2 linked regions of the Homo sapiens genome follow. The protein of the gene in region 1 purifies or fractionates together with the protein of each later gene. This does not show direct contact. Each region holds a gene or a part of one and is shown on either strand. Other genes may lie near its edges.

Region 1 (3,562 bases):
CAACAAAAAGAGTCCATCAAAAAATAAAATGGTCAACTGATATCAACTTATTTTATAGTAGTAAAATGGTAAATTATCCTCTTTAAAATAATTTTACTCTTATCAAACTACAGGACTTCCCACATACTGTTTTGAAATGAAGGTTCATAAGTTAGAGGGCACAGGGTTAACTGGCTTTAGAACTGGAGCAATATACATTCTGTAACAGTTGTTCCAATTTAAGATTCCAATAAAAAAAAATAAGTTACCAGAACAGTTGATGAACAAAATGATTAATTGGCACAACTCTAACTTCCAGTCAATTTTTCCATTTAGTGATAATGGAAACACTGGTTATTTACCTTTGGTTCCTTTCTAGAATTAGTATAATTGTGTGTGTATGTGTGAGAGTGTGCACACAGTGAGACTTGACACCATTACAGTTTAAATAAGGACTACTCCATTCTTTGATGCTCTTCATTAAAAAAAAATGTTAAAATGAACTAAAGTTGTTGCTCTAAGTCTGGCAGAAGTCATAATCAACTTTACAGAATGTGACAGGAAGGAAGATAAAAGTTCTCTCTCATTGCCTTTTCTTTTTGCTTCAATAAATTCAATCTAAGCAATGTTTCTAGTTAACAAGTGAATAGAATTGACTTTCTTAAAAGGGCAATTGCATAACTTAAAATACGGTATTTGCCACCCCTCCCCCATGAACTTTAACACATTTAGGCAAGTTCTGTTATTAACTCTTGCTTCTATACCATGACCCTCCAATTATCCATGGCAAATGGAAACAGGGATAATATGGCAGCCTGAAAGAAAATGGTACTCTAAAATTCTCCTGGAGCTATTACTTTCAACCATTTAAATGACAAAACTTTGTAGAACTTCTCAAACAATATGTACTGATTGCAGTTCTACTCCCTTTCTTTGCTCTCACTCCCCTATCAAGAGAAGGTGGTAGTGAAAGGCAACACAGCCCAAAGACAGGCAGAAAAGGAGAAAGTGTGACAAGCAGAGGGAATGGACCTAACAGGAACTGAACAGGCAGCCCCTGAAACTTCAGAGTTTCTTGCCTTTTTAATGCATTGATTCCCTTTAAAAGACAAATGGGGGTAAAAGTTAACTATTTTTTTCAGACCTTAAGCTTACCTGTTAAGGCACTTACTTTCCCTCCCCACCCCACCCATAGTTTTCATATAAAACCCACTATTTCATTTAAATGCATTTTGCTAGGCTTTGATAATCTGCAAAACAAAACAAAAATAACGTTGACCATTTTTTTTTTTATAAAACTGTTGCATCAAGAGAAAGGTTGTGTTTTATTTTCTGAAATGAGCACAAAGTACACCTTTCACAATAACACTGAAAGCAGGTGCAAAGACTGACAGTGACCTTTGACTAAAGGTAGCTTTGTAAAAAGAAAAATACCAAATAAATCAGTGCCCTTTCTGATTGTTGTAAAACTGGAGGTGGGGAGGGGCTGTTTGTTACATAAAAGTTGGTCCAAACTTACAAAAAAAGCACAAATGTGCATAGTTCAGAAGATCTGCAAGAGGGCCATAAAAGGCTTATGCCCCTAAAATTAGCATCCACTTAAAACTGCAAGAATACAAAATAAAATTGTTAACTAGAATTTGTGAAGATGTACAATCGATCTAGTTTTTAGAACAGCATGAATTTAAGCAAAGGTTTTTTTTGTCTTTTTTAAACTATTGTATGCAAGACCCTTCTCCACATAAAAATAAAGCTGTTGTTGAATTATTATTATTCAAGTCTCTTGGATTGCTGCCTTAAATTGCAGCTAGAAAAGTCTTTCCAGATAAAAATGATGTGCCTGAGGAAAAACAGATACTCAGTATGGTAACCCTCTGCCTCTGCCTCTGCCAGTTGATGTGCTAATATGTCCCCTGTATCCTTGTGAATATCCAGGTCCTTGGGCAGGAGAAGTCCAGGTCTGTCCATGCATGAGGCTGGGGCCACTCGGATTTTCCTGTAAGTTACCACCATAGTTATAGTTGTGCATCTTTGCTGGCAAAGGATGAGTACTCTCTGGCCCCGTGGAAGGGTCACTGCTGTTTGCCAGGACTGCAATAGGACCATGGCTATATTCAAATCTATGGTCCTTGTCTCCACTAAACAACATGGGACCAGCATTGAGGTAAATGTCTCCATATCCAGCTACTGAACTGGGAAATGACTCAGAAAAGGCAGAAGGCTGAGGTGGACCACCAGAATGAGATGAAGCAGTACTGTAGTTATCCAAAGACTGAATATCTGAATTTCCAATGAAACTACGTCGTTCTAGTGGTGGAGCAGAACTGCTTCCTAGACCATCATTGCTAACATAAGGAGCAGAAGAGAAAGAAGAGGATCCAAAGTTGTCCTTGTAGTCTGAAGTGGACACGTAAGTGTCTCCTGCTTGATAATCAATCCCACCTTCTCTTTTGGGGTCATCCTGGGGCTGATGCTGAGCAAGCAGCTGTAACAGGGCTGCCTTCACTCCGGCATGAGGGTCAGTTAATGAAGAACTGGTGGTGGGTACATGCTGGTTTTCTGTCCGATAATCTAGATCTTCCTCAGTGACTGGTGGTGGTTCAGGAGGCTCGGGAGGTCGTTGGTCAGGAGGCAGAATTCGAGGCCGGTCTGGTTCTGGCGTTAGCTCCAAGATCCTCATATCTTGATGCTGGATGAGGTCATCTTGTCCTAAGTGAAACAGAGCAAAAACAAGGTCAAAAGTTACCATGGAAAACTAAATATTCAAAATACTCAGTGTTTCCTGTAGGTAGTTCTAAAGATGATTAGAAGTTCCATCTCTGGCAAAATGTTAAATGAAAAAAGCAAAAAGTTTACAAGTACTATGGTAACTGGTAAATTTTACTGTATATGGCTTCTCTTTAAAAAAAAAAAAATTTTTTTTTTTTTTTTTGGTGACACGGTCTCACTCTGTCACCCAGACTGGAGTGCAGTGGAGTGATCACAGCTCACTGCAGCCTTGACCTCCTGGGCTCAAGTGATCCACCCACCTCAGCCTTCCAAGTAGCTGGAATCACAGGCATGTGCTACCATGCCCAGTTAATTAAAAAAAATTGTTTTAGAGACAGGGTCTCACTATGTTGCACAGATAGGTACTGAATTCCTGGGTTCAGGCAATCTTCCCACTTCAGCTTCTCAAAGTGCTGGGATTACAGGTGTGAGCCACTGCACCCAGCCGTAATTGGCTTTTTAAAGCTAATTACGGCTAGGTGCAGAATTCACGTATACTTCATTGCTTGAGGAACAAAAGCTACTGTGTACATAAATTATGCCTTAGTCAAGCATCCTTTCGTATTTGGAGTTAAATATTATTTCTTAACCATAGGTTTACCTTAGAAATATCTTTATCATTCACAATGAGTTCTATCTCACATGGATAATTTGTTAAAGAATCCATTCCTGGAAGTAAACAGACTGAAAAACCAACCTATTGCCAGTTACCTGAGATTCTTCAGGACATCTTTTGGCAATGTCACTGAACTATACACATTATATATAGTCAGCAACACTGAGTAGACAATGTAATGCAGCTGTGTTAGTGGTC
Region 2 (3,650 bases), on another chromosome or scaffold:
TGCTGGGCACCCCAGCAGGCATGGAGTTGCAACCAAGTGGGAGGAGAAAAAGGAACAGTCTGGAAGGAACTAGTGGCAGATCTGGCTCAGGCTGTGCCCAGGGGAGTAGGAGGGAGCTGTCCAGTCCACATCCCCAATCCCAAGCTCTAGGCAGGTCCCCAGGAGGGTGCAGGGAACTGCGTCCTCTGGGGGCCACCTCAGACAGAGGGCTGCAGCTCTTCACAGGGAACCCAACTCCTGGCCTCTGCTGCAGCTGTTCCTCCCCTGAATTCCACATCGACAGCTGTCACTACTGCAAAGCCAGAAACTCGAGGTCATCCTAGGTGCCCTCCTCACCCCACATCCAGGAGCCCTCAAGACCTACCAATGAGGACTGGGCTGCTCCTGCTCACCCTGCAGCCCCTCCTCACTCAGCTCCTGCCTCTCCCTCCACTCCCCAGTCCACATATAACTGCCTGCTGGGGCCCCCAGACTGAGAGCCTGATCACAACCTCCTCTGCCTCCCTCCTGGCCTCACGGTCAAGGTCAAACACATAGTGCAAACCTCCAGGGCCTTCACAATATGGGCCCCCACCCCTCAGTCCTGCCTGCTTCCCTTCTGACAAATCACAGCCTTACATAGTTCCTGCCCTTTCCAGAATCCCTCCTTTGCACACTTGATCCCTCCAGACACTCCCCTCCTCACCAAGGATACTCACTCATCTTCCCCAAAGGCACTCAAATGCTGCCTCCTCTATGAAGTCCTCTCAGGCTCCCTCAGCTGCACTCTTGGCCCTTAGAACCAGTGTCTGCTCTGGGCCTCTTCACGCTCTATTGATCCTTTCTCCCCAACAGACTGTGGGCTCAGCAAATGCTGAACTAATTGCAAAGGAAGCTGGTCTAGATTATCTGGGGGTGGGTGAGGATAGGGTGTACAGGGGTGTCTTCAGGTCATATGATGTAACTTTGGAACACAGGCTCTGAGGTCTACAGCCTGGCTTATACCCCAGCCCCACCTCTCTGATGTGGCCCTAGGGTAATAAACTTGTCTCCCCAGGCCTCATTTTCTCATCTATAAACTGGGAGCAGTAAAAGCACCTACCTCCTGGGAGCTGGGAAAGGGGACAGAGGGAGTACACACAGCTCCCAGCACGGGGCCTGGTGTGAAGAAGGAGAGGCCTGACCATCACATTCAAGGCACCGATGCAAAGACTAAACTCAGCTGGAAAATAAAACCCTTATACATATGGTCAACTGGCTTTCAACAAGGGTGCCAAGACCCTTCAATGGGGAAAGACAGACTCTTGAACTAACGGTGCTGGAAAAACCAGATATCCACATGCAAAAGAATAAACTTAGATAACCCTCACCTCACACCATATAAAAAAAACTAACTCAAAATGGATCAAAGACCTAAACCTAAGAGTTAAAAACTATAAAAGTCTTAGGATAAAACACAAGGGAGAAGCTTCATGACATTGGAGTTGGCAATGATTTCTTGGATATAGCACCAAGGGCACAGGCAACAAAAGAAAAAACAGACAAACTACATCAAAATTAAAAACTTTTGTGCATCAAATGACACTATCAATGAGTAAAAAGTCAGCCCACAGAATAGAGAACATATTTACATATCACCTCTCTTATAAGTGATTAGTTTCCAGAATATATAAAGAACCAAAACTCAACAACAATCCAATTCAAAAATGGACAAAGGACTTGAACAGACATTTCTCCAAAGAAGATATACAAGTGGCCAATAAACACATAAAAAGATATTGAACATCACTAATCATTAGAGAAATGCAAATCAAAGCCACAATATACCACTTCATACCCAGCAGGATGGCTATTATCCAAAAAAAAAAAAAAAAAACGGCTGGGCACAGTGGCTCCCAGCACTTTGGGAGGCCGAGGCGGGTGGATCATCTGAGGTCAGGAGTTCGAGACCAGCCTGGCCAACACGGTGAACTCCCATCTCTAAAAAAAACAGAAAAAAGAAATCAAGTGTTGGTGAGGATGTGGAAATATCAGAACCTTTGTGTGTTGCTGGTGGGAATGTAAAATGGTGCATATACTGCGGCAAACAGCATGGTGGTTCCTCAAAAAAGTAAACAGAATTACGATAGGATCCAGCAATTCCACTCCTGAGTATATGCCCAAAAGAACTGAAAGCAGGGACTCAGCTACGTGCACTATGCATTTCATAGCAGCATTACTCATGACAGCCAAAAGGTGGAAGCAAATAGTGTCCCTTGATGGAGGAATGGAGAAACAAAATGTGGTCTATCCATACAATGGGATATTATTCAGCCTCTAAAAGGAAAGAAATTCTGACACATATTACAATGTGGGTAAACCTTGAGAACATTATGCTCAGTGAAATAAACTAGTCATAAAACACAAATACTGTACGATTCCACTCATAGAAGATTCCTAGAGTAGTCACATCCATTGAGACAGAAAGTAGAACAGGGGCTGCTGGGAGGGAGGATGGGGAATCATTACTGAATAGGAGAGCAGAGTTCTGTTTTGCAAGATGAAGGAGTTAGATGGGTTGTGGCAACAGTTGCACAACAACGTGAATGTACTTAACACCACTGAACTGTACATTTAAAAATGGTTGAAATGGTACATTTTATGTTATGCATATTTTACCACATAAAGAAAAGGAAAAAGGAAAGAATCAGAGAATCAGCCAGAAGAAGGAAGGGAGAAGGCACCGCATATGCAAAGGCTGCAAGAGCTTAGCAAGTGTGAGGTGCTGCATGGCGGTCAGGGCCTCAGGACTGGGGCGAGGGCAGGGGAGGGGCAAGTGGCGAAGTTAACCAGTAAGACACGAGCCAACTGTGCTGCTGACTGTGGGTCAGCCATGGGCCAACTCCGAGGGACGTTGCCACGACTCTCGGGATGCCTGAGAAGATGGCCTGTGGCATGTGGCAGGTGCACAATACATGGATGACTAAATCTGGAATGTTTGTGGCTGGCCATCCAGTGCCCTAATCTGAAATAGAGGAACAGGCAGGGCAAAGTAGGCTGGGGACCCACACAAGGTCACCAACCACAGCTGGGTTGAAGGTGCTGGGAGGTTGTTATCAACATTACCCAGACAAGACGGTGGCCAGTGACCTCCCCAAGGCACACAGCAGCCCAACAGCAAGGCCGGGCAGGGAGGGGTCCAGCCCACATCTCCATAGCCGGCCGTCTGCCAGGGCCTCAGAGCCAAGCTGTCCCATGCCTTGCTGGGCTCATCTATAAAATGGGAACAGGGAAGCACTGATATGATGAGGTGGCAGACGTGACTGCATTGGGACGTGCTTTGAGGACCCCTAGACCGGCAAGCAGGAGTCCTCCTCCTCCTCCCATCCCAAGGTGCCTCAGGGACCCCGCAGGGCATGCTCACCTGAAATTCACCCTTAGTGAACTTGGCATCAGGCACACTCACGAGCTCCTCCTCACCCACCTCGGGGAAGCCCTGAGGGAAGACAGCTGCTGAGACAGAAGCCCCCTCCCAACGCCAGGAGCCCCTTGCTGGGGAGGACTTGGGGGCTGCCCAAGACTGATGGAAGGGGCTCTGGGACCACACCCGGCTGTCTCTGCCCCTCACACCCTCCTGTGGAGCCAGTGTGCCTGGGACCTGAGTGTCTACCCTCCTCCAGGCAAATCTCTAA

The links.
Region 2: the proteins of CDK13 (region 1) and PALD1 purify together in Homo sapiens (affinity purification with mass spectrometry; 2 studies listed by BioGRID and IntAct, with this or other methods). This does not show direct contact.

Annotation. Positions count from the first base shown.
Region 1 is NC_000007.14:40,093,256-40,096,817, reverse strand, and holds part of CDK13 (cyclin-dependent kinase 13), read right to left. Parts: intron 2,689-3,562; coding exon 1,838-2,688; 3' UTR 1-1,837. UniProt on the Homo sapiens protein: Cyclin-dependent kinase which displays CTD kinase activity and is required for RNA splicing.
Region 2 is NC_000010.11:70,541,267-70,544,916, reverse strand, and holds part of PALD1 (paladin), read right to left. Parts: intron 3,455-3,650; coding exon 3,383-3,454; intron 1-3,382.